Regions from separate parts of the Homo sapiens genome. Here region 1 is linked to region 2. Evidence: fine-mapped expression QTL. Tissue or cell type: whole blood. Region 2 holds a variant in brackets; the other region holds the start of a gene. All regions are shown on one strand. Distances are from middle to middle.

The links. PIP is the estimated chance that this variant, and not a neighbour inherited with it, causes the effect.
Region 1: GUCA1B starts here. The variant in region 2 is fine-mapped to the expression of GUCA1B in whole blood (TOPMed, PIP above 0.99).

The regions. Positions count from the first base shown.
Region 1 is chr6:42,189,956-42,198,102 of GRCh38, forward strand. GUCA1B (guanylate cyclase activator 1B) reads right to left here and starts at 5,001. Exons shown (of 4, transcript NM_002098.6): 1 at 4,659-5,001. The coding sequence starts at 4,865. RefSeq lists a cis regulatory region at 7,492-8,147.
Region 2 is chr6:42,229,093-42,237,284 of GRCh38, forward strand. It overlaps TRERF1 (transcriptional regulating factor 1), which reads right to left. Exons shown (of 18, transcript NM_001395490.1): 16 at 7,113-7,319; 17 at 3,589-3,836. LOC105375061 (a long non-coding RNA gene) reads left to right here. Exons shown (of 4, transcript XR_001744122.2): 2 at 5,268-5,408; 3 at 5,702-5,976; 4 at 7,324-7,412. Among named protein-coding and RNA genes, the nearest start is that of MRPS10, 15 kb to the left of the region's middle. RefSeq lists an enhancer at 7,406-7,565. The variant T/C (reference allele first, on the strand shown) is at 4,653.

The sequences.
Region 1 (8,147 bases), 39 kb before region 2:
ATCAGATCCCCCAGGAGTGCCTGTCATTCACATGACTTTGTTATCAGAAATGACACTGATGGCCCAGAGCACTTCTGTCCCACTGGGTCAGGCCACTCAGGAGCCCCAGCCCCAGATCAAGGGGTGCCTCAGTGAACAAGGTTTGAGCAACAGGAGAAAATGGCAGAAAATGAGGGAAACAGCAAGAAGCCTAAGGAAAAACTAAGAAGAAAACAAAACGAGCTTACCTTAGTACCTGAAGTGTTCTATTCATATCTTTTATATAATTCCTATAAATATATGGTCTCCGTACTCCCCATCATATACTTATCTAATTGAGGTCAGATTATATTTATAATTTTGTTTCCTTCATTCTCATGTAACATTTTCTCATGTCTTTAAAAATTAGTTAAAATGTCAACTTCCATTTTTTTTTTTTTTTTTGGTGGGGAGGGGGTACTGAACATTCCCTTTGTTGAATATATTTCTAATATTTTCCATTAAACAATGAACTTTTTTTTTGCACGTATACCTTTTCTTATATCTCTGGTATTTCTTTTTTTAGGGTAGACACTTAGCAATGGTTGTCAGTTCTTTAAAAGGCTATTTTCTCGAGTAGTTGTTACTTATTAAGCTTACCACAAATCAATCTTGTGTTTCTTATTTAATGAGAATTAGTTATTATCCCCATTTTATGGATGAGGAGCCTGAGACCCAGAGGTTCCCAGGCCACCCAGCCAGCAAGTGGCAGAGCTTTTCCAGGCATGCATCTCCTCCAGTGCATCACGTCGGAAGAACTTGCAGTCTCCACTTAAGATCTATTTCTGTCCAGCAAATAAGCCTAGTGCTTGGGGGTGCCAAGAGAAGAAAAACAAAAACAAAACCTGAAACCACTCACAAATCCCCACTCTCTAGATCTCCAGAGTCTTCCTCATTCTTTGTCCAGAAGCTTCTATTCCTACAACATCCTCTCTCAACATGATTCAGTTTCCATGACTCCTTGCCTTATATGAGACATATTCCAGAGTGATCTCTAGACAAGTGATCTCATCTGAGAGGTTACTGGAAACCCCAGGACCATTTCTGGGAAACGTCCAGCTGGGACTAATCTCATCTGCTATGCATGGGACCTTGTCAGCTCCAATTACCCACAGAGGCCTGAGAGTGATGGAAATGGCTCTGTCTACTCAGGAATAGGATGGGCGTGTCACCGGCTCTGTGGGATTATCTGCCCTGTTTCTCCTTGAATTGGCCATATTTGTGCACCAGCCCTGACTTCAATGCATGTTATATAAGAATCCTAAATGACATCTGATCTTCACCCTCCCCTTTCTTCCATTCCAGGCGGTCATAGGGCAACCACGAGAGTTGCAAGGGAGAGTGGCAGAGACGAGGTGTTCCTACCTTTTTGTCCCCACCAAACCGGTTTCCATCACCTCACATTTTCACGTGTGAACCACATCTATAAACACTTTTGATTGGATTTGCTTTAGAAATCTCAGACCGATTGTTCCGAAATGACACTCCTTGATATAAGGGGGAATGGAGTCAGGTGTAGGTTTGGAGACAAAGACTAAGTGGGAAAGAAGGCTCAGTCCCTGAGAGAGGAACTGAAAAACACTTTCTAGGGAGGCTCTTCCTTACAGTGGAATGCCAACTAATAAATAGAGAAGGGGTGATGGGGTTAGAAAATTATCAACAGATGCCAAAGCCAGTAGAAAATTTGACTGAACAATAGGATATTTACTTAGTCTCAAGATATATCCTTACATGTTGCTTATTAATTACAAAGAAAAAAATAGTAACTTTACAATGTTGAAACATGGCAGATACCACCTTAACCAAGTGATCAAAGTTAACTACGCCAGTGATGGGACAAACTGATGTCTTGTACCGGATGGTATGATGAACCGAGGACACAACATCACATCAGTGGCAATTCTACCAATTTAGACAAACGCCAGTTGTGGGCTGTCCTACAACATAACTCAGCTGCAGTCTTCAAAAATGTCACAGTCAAATAAAAAAGAAAAGCTGAGATTAAAGATTCCAGGTTAAAGAAGACTAAGGAGATACAACAAGTAAATGCAATGTATGATCATACAAAAAAAAAAAAAGAAAAAAAAAAAGAAAAAGGAAGGCCAGGCATGGTGGCTCATGCCTGTAATCCCAACACTTTGGGAGACCGAGGCGGGTGGATCATGAAGTCAAGAGATGGAGACAATCATGGCCAACATGGTGAAACCCCATCTCTACTAAAAATACAAAAATTAGCTGGGCATGGTGGTGCTCGCCTGTAGTCCCAGCTACTGGGGAGGCTGAGGCAGGAGAATCGCTTGAACCTGGGAGGTGGAGGTTGCAGTGAGCCAAGATCATACCACTGCACTACAGCCAGGGTGACAGAGCGAGACTCCAACTCAAAAAAAAAAAAAAAAAAAAAAAAAAAGAGAGAAAAGAAAAGAAAAGAAAAGAAAAAGGAAAAAAGAAAGAAACCTGGCCGGGTGCAGTGGCTCATGCCTGTAATTCCAGCACTCTGGGAGGCCGGGGTGGGCAAATCACTTCAGGTCAGGAGTTCGACACCAGTCTGGTCAACATGGTGAAACCCCGTTTCTACTAAAAATACAAAAATTAGCCAGGCATGGGAGTGTGCACCTGTAATCCTAGCTACTCAGGAGGATGAGTCATGAGAATTGCTTGAACTCAGGAGGTGGAGATTGCAGTGAGCTGAGATTGTGCCACTGCACTCTAGCCTGGGCAACATGGCGAGACCTCATCTCTACCAACATAAATAAATAAATAATACAAAAATTAGCAGGCATGGTGGTGCACACCTGTAATCCCAGCTACTTGAGAGGTTGAGGTGGGAGGATCCCTTGAGCCTGGGAAATCAGAGGCCGCAAAGAGCTGAAATCATGCCACTGGGTGACAGAGCGAGACTCTGTCTCAAAAACAAAAAAGAAAATACACACTGAAATACTTAGGGATAAACGGGCATGATATCTATAGCTTTCTCTTAAAAAAAGTATATGTATAAATTATGTATCATGTATATGTATATATACTTATAGGATACATTATATATATGTATGTATACAGAGAGAGGCAGAATGATAAAGTAAATGATATAAAATGTGAATAACTGGGGAAATTTGGATAAATTGCATATGGGAGTTACTTGTATCATTCTTATAACTCTTCTGTAAATTTAGAATCATAGTAAAATTAAAAAGTTATTCAAAAAGGAAAAAACATTGATGAACATCATATGCCGATTTATAAGAAGAGATGAGGTATAAGGAGTACAACTATATGCCTAGGGGCTTAATCAGCCCTTTGGATCTTGAATCATGATCGTATTGATTTTTAGATGAATCTGGGGAAGATTGATGGACTTAAATGAGTCTTATTATTTATGACCTGATATATTTGTTTACTTTTCTTACATTTTAAAAAAACATCAATTATTTTAAAAAGTCATCTTCTCTCTTTAAAAAACCTGCCTTCTAGGCAGGAGCACTTAAGACCTTGGGCAAATCGATTCATTCCCTTTTGCCCAGCTTTCTCATCATTTAATTTGGAATAACAAAAGTCTGCCCCTCCCACCCAGGGTTGCTGCTGATTCAGAGGAGACCTAAGAGAGGCGGAGCGCTGAGAAGTCCGAAACTGGCTCTGTGCCCTGTGGGGTGGTCGATGGGGTTCATCTCTAAGGAGGTTCTGTTGAATTGAAGGTGCTGACCTCACCCTCCTGTCCCGGGACAGGCACTGTGGGGACGTGCACTGACTGGTACCAGCGACAGGATGAGACCTGAAGTGGCATTCCCAGTGATTCAGCTTAGAAAGCTAAGTTCTCCACGCACTGAGGAATGGAGAACTGACACTTTCTTCAGATTAAATTGGTATTTGAGGCAAATACCAGGGCATTTGAGGTATTTGAGGTATTTGAGGATTGCCAGGGCACTGAACTGGATAACCTTAAATAATCAAGGGGTTTTTAACTGAATTGAAATTTAAAATTCAATCCCCTGGTGCATTTACAAGATGTGTTATCTTCTTAGCTGCTAGTGACATTGTGGGCTTAGAGAAACTCTAGTCTGAATGATTTAATGAAACCTTCCAGGACTTGAAGAGCTGAAAGGGGCTTTTGCAGTCATTCGCCCAGTCTCCCAATACATGCAGGAGCCTCTTCCAGCATTCTTGACAGGGAGGATCTGACCAGTCTCAGAAGAACCCCAACAAGAGGGAGCTCATAGCCCATGCTAAGATACCTTGTCTCATTTAGAACATCTCTTTTGCTCCTAGTGTTTAGAGTGACAGGGGCTCTGGCAGATGCGAAAACCCGGTCATTGGGCTGCAGAGTCTTGGTCAAAAATACACAAAGAGAGGACCTGGACTGTCTGCCAGTCGCCCTTCAGCTCTCAAGAAGAGGACACAGGGAGCATCAGCCGACAGCTAAGAGATGGAGGGAGGGAAGGAGAGACAGAGAAGATGGAAAGGGACAAAAGGAAGAGAAGAGACAGAAGGGTTTGGTGAGTGAGACAGAAAAGGTAAAGAGAGACGGAGTGGAAAGAAGAGCAGAGAAAGAGCCGAGGAGTGGGGAACTGGGAGCTCTCCCTGAGGACACTTGTGGAGGAAGGCGCCAGGTGGACTGGCCACTGGTCCTTCCCTTCAGGGTGCCTTACCCCATTCTTGTCGAAGGCTCGGAACATGCCCTCTACATACTGGGAGGCCTCCTCATCGTCTGTGACCTTGAAGAAGCGCTTAAACTCATGCATAAAGAGTGTGCCGCTGGGGCACTCCATCACAAACTTCTTGTACCACTCCTGGAGCTCCGCCACATCTATCTCGCCAGCTGCCTCCGCCTCCTCCCAGCTAAACTCCTGCCCCATGCTAGCCCTGAGGAGCATCAGGGAGCAAGGGTCTGTATCTCCTCCCTGGCTTCTGCTGATGGATCTCTCCAACTAGGGCCCTCTTCCTCCCTTTCCAGGAGGCCTGATCAGCCTCTCCATCATCTCCTGGGTGACTGAACATGATCAGTCGGTGCAGGGGGCAGGTGGCAAGGGAGGTGGGTCCAGGCCAGCTAAGCTGCCCTAAGACTATTAGAAGATTCCCCAGGTGGCCGGGTGCGGTGGCTCATGCCTGTAATCCCAGCACTTTGGGAGGCCGAGGTGGGTGGATCACAAGGTCAGGAGTTCGAGACCAGCCTGGCCAACATGGTGAAATCCTGTCTCTACTAAAAATACAAAAAATTAGCTGGGCATGGTGGTGGGTACCTGTAATCCCAGCTATTCAGGAGGCTGAGGCAGGAGAATCACTTGAACCTGGGAGATAGAGGTTGCAGTGAGCTGCGATCACACCACTGCACTCCAGCCTGGGGGACAGAGTGAGACTCTGTCTCAAAAAAAAAAAAAAAAAAAAAAAAAGAGATTCCCCAGGAAGTTCTGACCTCCAGCCTAAACTCCTCCAGCCTCACTCCTTCCCTTAGCCTTGTCAACAAAGCAACCAAGCTGGCCCTGGTAGACTCTGAAGAGGTAGAAGGGGAAGAAACTGAGAGGTAAGCAGAGAGATGCAGAGTGAAGAAAGAGTCGGGGTGCTAGGCTGGGATCCTCCCATCTCACTCACTCCCTATCTCTTTAGCTGGGCCTCACATTGCTTCAGGGAGGCCCATCTTGGAGACAGGAGACTCAAATCCAGAGAGGAAGTGAGATCAAGTCCTAGGCCATAAAACAGAATCTGCTGGTGATCTGGGACTCGCCCCTCAGACGGTCTAGTGAAAAGAGGCAGAATCTATGATGGGAAGGGCTCTAGGTGAGCAACTCTCTTCCCAGGCTAACTCGGTCCCTGAAGCTCCTTTCCAGATTACACCTTTCATCTTGGGAGCTTTTCACTTTCTGATTTAAACTACAAATGCCTCCCTCCAACCCTTCACACAAGACCTAGGGGTAGTGCCTTTTTCACATTTCCTCCAAAATACTAACATGTGAGAAGGATCTGGGAGCATGGCCTAAAATATCTTTGAAGGCTCTTACTTTTACATTATAGGTCATGTAAAATTTGCTTTTGAACAATTACATATTCATGCTTATTTTAATGTAACATAAAAATGACACCTCCAAGAAATCAAAAGACCAGGGACACACATTTTTCTTTTTCTTTGCTTTTTTTTTTTAAATTTCTATTTTTTGAGACAGGGTCTCGCTCTGTCGCCCAGGCTGGAGTGCAGTGGTGTGATCTCGGCTCACTGCAACTTCCGCCTCCGGGTTCAAGTGATTCTCATGCCTCAGCCTCCCGAGCAGCTGGGATTACAGGTGCACACCACAACACCCAGCTATTTTTTCTTCTTTTTTTTTTTTTTATTATACTTTAAGTTCTAGGGTACATGTGCACAACATACAGGTTTGTTACATAGGTATACATGTGCCATGTTGGTTTGATGCACCCAGCAGCCAGCTAATTTTTGTATTTTTAGTAGAGATGGGGTTTCATCATGTTGGCCAGGCTGGTTTCAAACTCCTGACCTCAAGTGATCCACCCGCCTTGGTCTCCCAAAGTGCTGGGATTATAGGCATGAGCCACCACGCCCAGTGACACTCATTTTTCTAGAAGACTTCAGAGGCAGCAGTTCCAGTGAATCTATCCTTAACCTACCCATCCCTCACTGGGTGTTCAGCCTGAATTGTTTTGCACATCTCCAGGCCTGACCTCCTCTCTCACTGTTCTCTGCCTCCAGACGTCACTGAGCTCTGAAAGCTCTTTTAACTTTCTTGCTATTCCTGAAGGAGAAATGTGATTTCTTCTGTCATCCTTTCAAGTGGTGGTGGGTTTTTCTCCCCCACACACACCTCAAGGTCTAGATAACAGGGCTAGTGTCCTCCTCGCTTCTAACTCTTGCCTCCAAATGGCCTTTTACTTTTTTCTCCCCAAAAAAGGCCAGTCCCTTTGAAGCCACATCTGACTCCTTGCCACTATTTACTTCTCCTCATTACTGTCATTCACTGGTGACTTCCCTGCTTGTCTCAAAGCATCATGTCAGTCATTTCAGTGACTGTGACCTCCAAGTGGATAAACAGCCCATCCCATACACTGGCCTCAAAGGTACTTGATCTCTCTCTCTTTTTTTTTTTTTTTTTTGAAACAGAGTTTTTGCTCTTTTCACCCAGGCTGGAATGCAGTGGTGCGATCTCGGCTCACTGTGAACTCCGCCACCCGGGTTCAAGCGATTCTCCTGCCTCAGCCTCCCTAGTAACTGGAATTACAGGTGCCTGCCACCATGCCCGGCCAATTTTTCTATTTTTAGTAGAGATGGGGTTTCACCATGTTGACCAGGCTGGTTTCGAACTCCTGACCTCAGATGATCTGCTCGCCTTGGCCTCCCAAAGTGCTGGGATTACAGGCATGAGCCACTGCGCCCGGCCCCAGTGAGATGTGTGGGGGTCACACTGCCCTCTTAGTCTCTAATTGCTGGCAACCTGGCATGGTCCCACATGCGTAAGCCACCGGGCCTGGCCTGGTCCTTGATCTCTTTAGTTCCAAAGAGCTTTTCTTCCACCTTACCTAGTACTTCCATTCACTTGTGGTCCCTGAGCCACAAGTGCAGCATCTGGGAGCTTGCTAGAAATGCAATGTCTCAGGCCCCACCTCAGACCTGCTGAATCAGGAACTGTGGGCTGGGGCCAGGAGTCTGTGTTTTAACAAGCCCTCCAGGTGCTTCCAATGCGTACTGAAGTTTGAGGATCACCACCCTAGGCCTTGCTGTCACCAATCTCTACTACCTCTGAAACATTCAAACGCTGCCGTCTGTTATCAGCACCCCACCCCTTCCATCTGTTACTGTAATACCTTCACTCCAATAATTCACTAATCTCATTGCGACTTCCAACCTGCTGATCTGTTTTTAACATCTGTCATCTTGCTCATCTCCTCACTCTCCTCCTTATCTTCATTCCATGGCCCAGCATTCTCTCCATTTTGACTTTTGTGCCCCTCTCTCCTCCTAACGCCTCACTTGGCCTGGCCCTGGTTAAGGCTGTTCACTAACTATGCAGTAACACTTTGCCTACAGTGGGGAGCCTGGACATCATTGGAGGACATCATAAATCATGCTGGCTGTACGCACTTCAGATCATGCCAGACAATCATACTACATACTCTTCCTGCCGAATTCCCTCTCC
Region 2 (8,192 bases):
TCCCTGTTCCTCCACAGTTGAAAGTTGTTGGTTTTGTTGTTGTTGTTGTTGTTGTTTTAAATAGAGACAGGGTGTCTCTCTATTGCCCAGGCTGGAGTGCACTGGTGTGATCACAGCTCACCATAACCTTGAACTCCTGGGCTCAAGTGATCCTCCCACCTGAGCCTCTCGATTAGCTAGGACTACAGGTACATACCACCATGCCTGGCTAATTTTTAAATATTTTGTAGAGATGGAGTCTTGCTATGTTGCCCATGCTGGCCTCGAACTCCTGGCCTCAAGTGATCCTCCCACCTTGGCCTCCCAAAGTGTTGTGATTACACGTGTGAACCACTGCGCCCAACCCACGGTCAAAATTCTTGAAGGATCTGCCCACACGCACTTGGTGGATCTCTTTTTTCTCTGCTTCTTCCTCTCCAAGTGGACTGTTGTCCTCTCCCTGTCAACCCAATTGCTCTTCTCGAGGTCACTGGTAACTCTGTGTGGCCAAATTCAGTGGCCCCTGTCTTTATTGTACTTGACTTCTGAGCTACATCTACTACTCCCTTTCACTTAAGGCCCCTGCTTTGTGGCCATGATATTATCATAATGGCTACACATCCTCCAACACAGAGGACACTCCCTCTTCGCCAAGCAAGGAATTGGCAGACTTGAAATGCCAACAGTGCTGAGGTTGAGAAACCCGGGGATAAAATGATATATTGCTGGGGTTAATTCTTTAGATGAGAGGTCTGCAAACTATGGTCAGTGGGCCAAATCCTGACTGTTTTTGGGAATAAAGTTTTATTGGCACATAGCCATGTCTGTTTATGCAATGTTGATGGCCGTTTCTGTGCTGCAATGGCACAGCTGAGCAGTTATGATAAAGACAGTAAACGGCCCACAAAACCTCAAATATTAACTATCTGGACCTTTTTCAGAAGAAGCGTGCCCAGGTGTGAGACTGTTTATGGAGAGGGGGTGGCATAATACTCTTTAGTCACTTCTGAGCTCATGAAGGAAAAAACAAAACAAAACAAAAACACACACACAAAACACCTGGTTTCTAAGGCCTGAGTCCAACGGGGCTGATAAATCACAATTCTGCTTGGACACACTGAAAATGGTTAAATGTAACAAACATAATTTCAGCACCTCTAAGAGGTATTTTGTGAACATTTGCCTAATGTTATTTTGAGTTAGGAAAAGCCACAGAAACCATTTGTATTTTCCATGAAATCATAACTGGATTTCTGGTAGAAAAAGTTTCCAAGCAACGTAAGACTCCAAAAAAAAAAACATTTAATAGATGCTACTGAGACATGGCTGGGAAACATGAAATACTGATTTTTTTTAAGTTAAATCATCCTCTGTCTCCACCTGGTGGAATGTAGCGTTGTAGCCTGTTTGAGCCTAATGAGTGGGTGGTGCTAGCTCCTCTGGGGGAAAACTGGCAAGACCCTGATACCCTGATGCTGCCACTCCAGGACAAATAAGCGGGAGATCACTGAGAGTCAGCTGAGGGTGGTTCCATCATTATTTCAATTAAAAAAGCCTTAAGATCAATCCAGGGGCCCATTTCTTCCATGGTGCACCAGTGTGTGGTGGGTGGTGATGTTAAAATGACATCATGGCCAGCTTGGAAGGACAGCAGGGTGTGGAGGAGACCCACACCGAATCCCATCTCTCCCATCCCTGTGCTTCATGGGGGGAAGTGATCTGCTAGTTCCAGTTCACTTTGGTGGGTGCCATCAAGCTGGGCTTAATCAGACGCAGCATGGCATAGAGCCAGGAGCACAAGGCCAGGCCAGCCTGCATGGTGTGAATCCCCACTAGGCTGCTCGCTGTGAACTGCAACAGGGGCTTCACTTTTCTGTGCCTCAGTTTCTGCCTGTAAAAAAGAAGCTCCTAAAAGTACCTGCCTCATAGGGCTATTTTAAAGATTAATCAGTACATGTGCTATGGGTTGAATGTGTCCCCCAAACAGCACATGTTGAAAACTGAATCCCTAATGCAGCTATGTTGGAAGGTGTGGCCTAATGGGAGGTGTTTCAGTGACGAGGGCCTCACCCTCATGAATGGATTCATGCCGATTATAATAGGGTATGAGGCTGCAAGTTCAACCTCTTGCTCTCTCTCCCCTCTCTTTGCCCTTCCACAATGGGATGACTTAGCAAGAAGGCCCTTGCCAGATGCAGGCCCCTTGACCTTGAACTTCCCAGCCTCCAGAACTATAAGAAATAAATTTATTTTCTTTATAAATTATCCAGTCAGTGATATTCTGTTGTAGCAACACAAAACAGACTAAAACATGTAAAGAATCCTTTAAAACAGTGCCAGGCACATAGTTAGTACCTGATAAACAGCAGTTACTATTAAGTTGCCTGCTCTACTCTATGAGGATGTATAAGTAGAGGTCCCACCTAGCCTTGCTGATGTAACTAGGGATGTTTTCGTGGTAGAGTTTCAGAAACCACTTGGGCAGCATCTCTCCCAGGTAATACTCCTTTTCATGCTCGAGGCACTAGGAATTATGGGAAGAGGAACTCAGCAAGGCTCCTAAAGGATGTAATTCATAACAATGTAGTACCCTTCCAGTCAGGTGGACTCATTGAGAAGTACACTGGAATTCTCTACTGGAGGCTGTGGGAGGGAATCACCCATCTTACCATCAATGGCATTTTCTACCTAAAGCAAAAAACAAAGTAAACCAAAAGGAAAGAGCAGTGGTCAGAAGCCCAGGTCTGCATTCGGACAAAACTGGGTTCAAATCTCAGTTCTGCTCTTTACTGGCACTGTGATTTAGGTCAAGTCATTTTACCTAATTTTTAAACCCTTATTTGTAAAACAAAGATAAAAAAACAGTATCTGTATCACATGGAGTTTCTATGTAAGGATTAAGTGAGCTCACACACATAAAGCATGTAACAAAGTAAATGCTCAGTAAATGTTAGCTATTATAATTACTATCTCGTTACTTTTTTTCTTTAGCTGTTGTTGTTTTTTAAATTATACCTAAAAGGGGAGGATAACAAATAGGTTTTATTTCATGTGTCAACTCTGATTAATTGGTTGTGCAGCTTGAAGCATGACAACAAAAAGTAATTGAGGCTTTGTCTTAAAGTGATAGCAAAGTGTGGTGATTGATTAGTGATGTCTGCCTTAGTCACAGAAGTAAGCGAAGGTGGTAGGATTACCCTGTATGAGCCATCTGTGTTACAGAGAGTTCCTGATTAGATGTTGTAGAGCCATTCTCAAATCATTCAGCGGGGATCCAAACAGAGTAATGCTAGTGAACATAGCTTGGGTGTGAAGGGAAGGAGTGGGAACCAGAGTCCCACCTGCCATTCCTGGGAAAGAGTGAAGTTTTGTAACTTACAGGTTCACTCTCTGAAGATATCCATCCTTACAAGGCTCTAAGATAACAGAATGGCCATATTCTGAGTCTGCAACAGGACTACATACCCATCCCAAAGATGACACGAAGAAGAGTTTTGAGGTCTAAGTTCTTTTTTCTGATTGAAGAAACCTCAGGCCATCCTGGCCCAGCTCCCATAGAGCGACTACCCATCATGAACTCAGATTCAGTCCCCGGTCCCCTGCACCTACTTGCCACACTCCTTGCAGGGGAAGATGGTGGTGGGGTCTGTCTCGCCGCTGGTGGTGCTGTGAGAGGGTGAGCTCTTTACCGAACAGTACCCACTCTGGGTGCCACCAGGCTTCTGCTTCCCAGAGGGGATGGCACCTCGGGCCTTGGTCACCTGGTTGGTGCCCCCGTGGATGCGGGCATGGCCATTCAGTGCCTGTCGGGAGCTGAACACCTGGGGAAGAAAGGGAGTGACATGACATCTACAGTCCTGAAAAGGAAATTAGGGTTATTAGTTACTCAGTGGTAAACATGGAATACTTGAAACTGTCTAATGACAGGGCACAAGGGTTTTATATAAGCAAACTTTGGGCATATGCTACAAAAGGTAAAGATCAAATACCACAACCACAGATCCTGTGCCAATCAAAACCTCATCACTGCTACAATCAGAAGAGAAGAAGCGACGTGGCACAGGATAAAGAATAAAGCTACTGTCTAGAAGTCAAGACGTCAGGGGTTTGGACCCAGCTCTACTATAACTAAAGCTGTTGGGCCATTTCCCTTCTGTATACTTTATTTTTTTCCATCTGAGGAATGAGAGGGCTGGACCAGCTTTCAAACTTTTTTTTTTTTTTTTTTTTTTGAGACAGAGTCTCGCTCTGTCACCCAGGCTGGAGTGTGGTGGTGCGGTCTCAGCTCACTGCAAGCTCCGCCTCCCAGGTTCACACCATTCTCCTGCCTCAGCCTCCCGAGTAGCTGGGACTACAGGCGCCCGCCACCACGCCTGGCTAATTTTTTGTAGTTTTAGTAGAGACAGGGTTTCACCGTGTTAGCCAGGATGGTCTCGATCTCCTGACCTTGTGATCTGCCCGCCTTGGCCTCCCAAAGTGCTGGGATTACAGGCGTGAGCCACCACGCCTGGCCTCAAACTTTTTTAAAGATGATAACTACCTCCTTCTTTTCCTCCCATTTTTCTTCCTTCCTTCCTCTTTCCCTCCCTCCTTCCTTTTTAGGAAATCAGGTCTTACTAAAAAAACTCAGGCTCAAGTTAAAAGCAGAGGTGCTCTGGCTAGAATGGAGACAG[T/C]GCCCCAGAATTGCGCCTGTTTGCTCAGCTCTATCTACCCCGAGGAAGCCCTAGCACCCTAAGGAATCCAGTTTGAAAGACAGTGATTAGGTTTTCTGACGTATTCTACGTTGTAGATAGCCTTAATCAGTAGCCCATTGTTGAAGCAATGTTTAAGACCCCCAAATTTTAATACAGATGATAAAAAGAAGAAGGATCTTGGCAGAATTTTAAAATCCTGCCATAAAGCTGGGTTTTCTTAACATCAGCACTACTATCATTTTGGGCTGGATAATTCTTTGTTGTGATGGGTGGGGGGCTCTGTTGTATAGGATGTTTAGCAGCATCTCTGGCCCTACCAGATGCTAGCAGCACCTCCGCATTTATGATAAAAGTTATGATAAATTCCAGACACTGCCAAATGTTCTTGGGGAATAAATCATCCCCAGTTCAGAACCACCGCTATAAAGGGGTGTAAATCCATATCCCTGAATCCAATGAGTCCTGGCTTCCAGCTTGTTAAACTCATCAGCTAAGGGGAGTACCTACTGGGCTGTCTAGCTGTAGTAGTTGCTGTATTAAGTTTATGATCTCTGTTTTTTTTGTTTGTTTGTTTGCTTGTTTTTTTTTTTTCAGATGGAGTCTCACTCTGTCACCAGGCTGGAGTGCAGTGGCATGATCTCAGTTTACCGCAACCTCTGCCTCCTGGGTTTAAGCGATTCTCCTGCCTTAGCCTCCCAAGTAGCTGGGACTACAGGCGCGCACCACCACGCCCAGGTAAGTTTTGTATTTTTAGTATAGTAGAGACGGGGTTTCACCATGTTGGCCAGGATGGTCTTGATCTCTTGACCTTGTGATCCACCTGCCTCAGCCTCCCAAAGTGCTGGGATTACAGGCGTGAGCCACCGCGCCTGGCCAAGCTCTGGTTATTTTCTTACATAGGAAAAAACCTATCGCTGACTTAGCAACCAAAGCCTCCATCGTTAGGCAAGGAATAAAATAAAACCAGCACGCTTTTTCCACTGTGATTTTTAAAAGTCATTAAAAAATATCTTTTCCCTTATGTACAGAAAAATTGGAACAGAAAAATATCTAACTTGCTGAGCATTTGATGGGAAAAAGTAAAAGATAACTTCCATTTGGTACACAACTTATTGTACATAGAGCTATGATTTGAGGAGGCATCTAATTTCTGAACAAATTCACCAAGAAATACCATCACTTAAAGTCATTATCGCAATCATGCTGCAGTGAACACTCTATACAAAATGGCCAGGTCATTAAACATCAAAGATGGAAAACAAGCCAGCAATCTCTTCTGTTCTCTTCAAAGTGAATGCAAAATGTATGTATCTTTTTTGTTTTTTTTTTAATTTTCATTTTTTCTTAAATGCAAATCAAATGAATTTCTGCTTTAGGATCTAAATATTTTAAAGACTGTTGCTTTCTCCATCTAAGTGACAGGTAAGCAGCATTCAGTACACTCTGGAGAACAGCACTGTCCTATATCATGTATGAGCAAAGACAAGCACACTGACTTAAGGAAAATGGGCTTCCTCTGCAAGGGGCAACATTATTTTGAGGGGTAATCCCTCTAGAACTTGCCTATACAGGTGTGCCTGGCCTTAAGAAACCTGATTTGGGAAAAGCTCACCAATTCAGACTAGTGGCAGACCAGCGGGAGATTGAGAAATAACCTTTAAAAATATCCTTTAAAATACATATGGAGCCTTAGACAAGGCCAGCACAGATACCGTAAGGTCTTTCTTTAGTGCTAAGAATGACCACATGGTGAACTTGTTTTATTTTAGCTAAATTATGCTTCTAATATTCTTGAAAAGTAGTAGCCTCTGTATTTACACACACTCCCTTTCAGCCTGTTTATATGATTAATTTACTTTTAGTAAATCTTTTTTTTCTCCACCATAGAGTACAAAGATAAACTTTAGTTAAATCTTTGTAACAGTGTTCTCAATTTTAAATTAGTGACATTTCGATTAGTAACACTTTATGAAATGTGAAATGCAAAACCTTCTAAATAGGTAAAATTGCAGGAGGTAGGGCAAGTAATTATGTCATAAAAGGATGATCTTTGTCAGCAGGCTCTCCTAGTACATTTAAATGCATGTTGACAGGGCACAAGCTTGTGTGACACACAGCCCAGGGGAATGCAGAGGCTCCAGGAAATGTGGAATGTATGTTTTGGAGGCCACGCTCACTGCAGAGCTTGGAATCACACACTCCTGGGCATGGGGGCCTTCTCTGTGTTCTCCAACACGCAGCATCATGCTTGACACAGAACACACACTCTGTAAATACCTGTTGGCCAAATGAAGCAGAAAACAATGGCAACATGGAGCACCCTCTGCCAAACTGTGACTGTTGGAAGAGCACTCTCGAAAATACATCATCTCTTAAAGCCAGGCACAGCTATATGGCTCTCACTTGTCCCAGATCCCCAGACGACACAGACACACTTACAGCCCCACAGTTGGGCATTTCACAGATGAAGGAGCCTGAGGGCTGGCCCAGGGCCTGCAGGGGCGGCCCCTCCGTGGGAGCCAGGACGGGGACGGGTGGTGGCTCCGGGGACTTCGGCACCTCACTCTCTTCTTCTTTTGTGGATTTCCTATCTTCTTCCGGGTCCTCCTCCTCCTCCTCCTCTAACTCTTCTTCTTCTTCACTTGTCTAGTGTTAAGGTAATAAAAGCAAGAGGGGAAAATCCCCAAATGGCATTCTTAGTGATGAACAGAACTCACAGATCAACAGAGGAGAGAGGGGCAGGATGCTGGCGCTGTGTTCCTTTCTTTCTGCATAAGGAATGGTGGACAGAGCCTGTTAGGCGTGATCCTCAAAAGGTTGGTCTCCGGATGCTTAGGACTTCGAGGTCAAGGAAGTAAGTCCCCTGCCCCACTTCGGGACCCCTCATCACTTATATAAAGATATGGTGAGGCAGAGAGGAGCAATTTCTACATGCAAGGATTCCCCACCTTGTTCGAGACTATCAGATCTTAAAATGACTAAAACTCAGGCTGCGTCCTGCCTGTAAGTAGCTCTGTCTCCTCACAGAGGTGAAGAGGGGTTTCCAGCAATAACAATACCATGGAATCCCCCTTGGAGAGAGACTAAAGAAGGACCTGTGCTGATTTGTTTTAGAGGCTTTATAACACACCATGCAAGATACTGGATTTGACCTGCGGTGTGCAGAAAGCACGTGACTCAAGGGGAGCTCCACTCTGGTCTTGTCAGAAAATAGAGTGAAAGGAGAGAAAATGGAAGGGGAGATTCCCTTTTATTTGTCATGTGCTTTTCCTTTTGTCTCTGACCATGGGCTTAGAAAAAGCAGTGTATTCAATGTTTCTATTTATTCATTTTCTCCTACCAGAGGCATTTAATGAAAAAGAACAAGAAAAACTTTTCCTATGAATAATGATCTCCTCTGCTTCTATGGCCACTCTCCCCACTTCAGAACAGCAGCCATGTGGAGAATTAAGCAGAAGGTCCCTGCCCTCCTCAAGGTTAACAGAATAGTAAGTTACTGGAATAGCTTGGAGTGGGTGC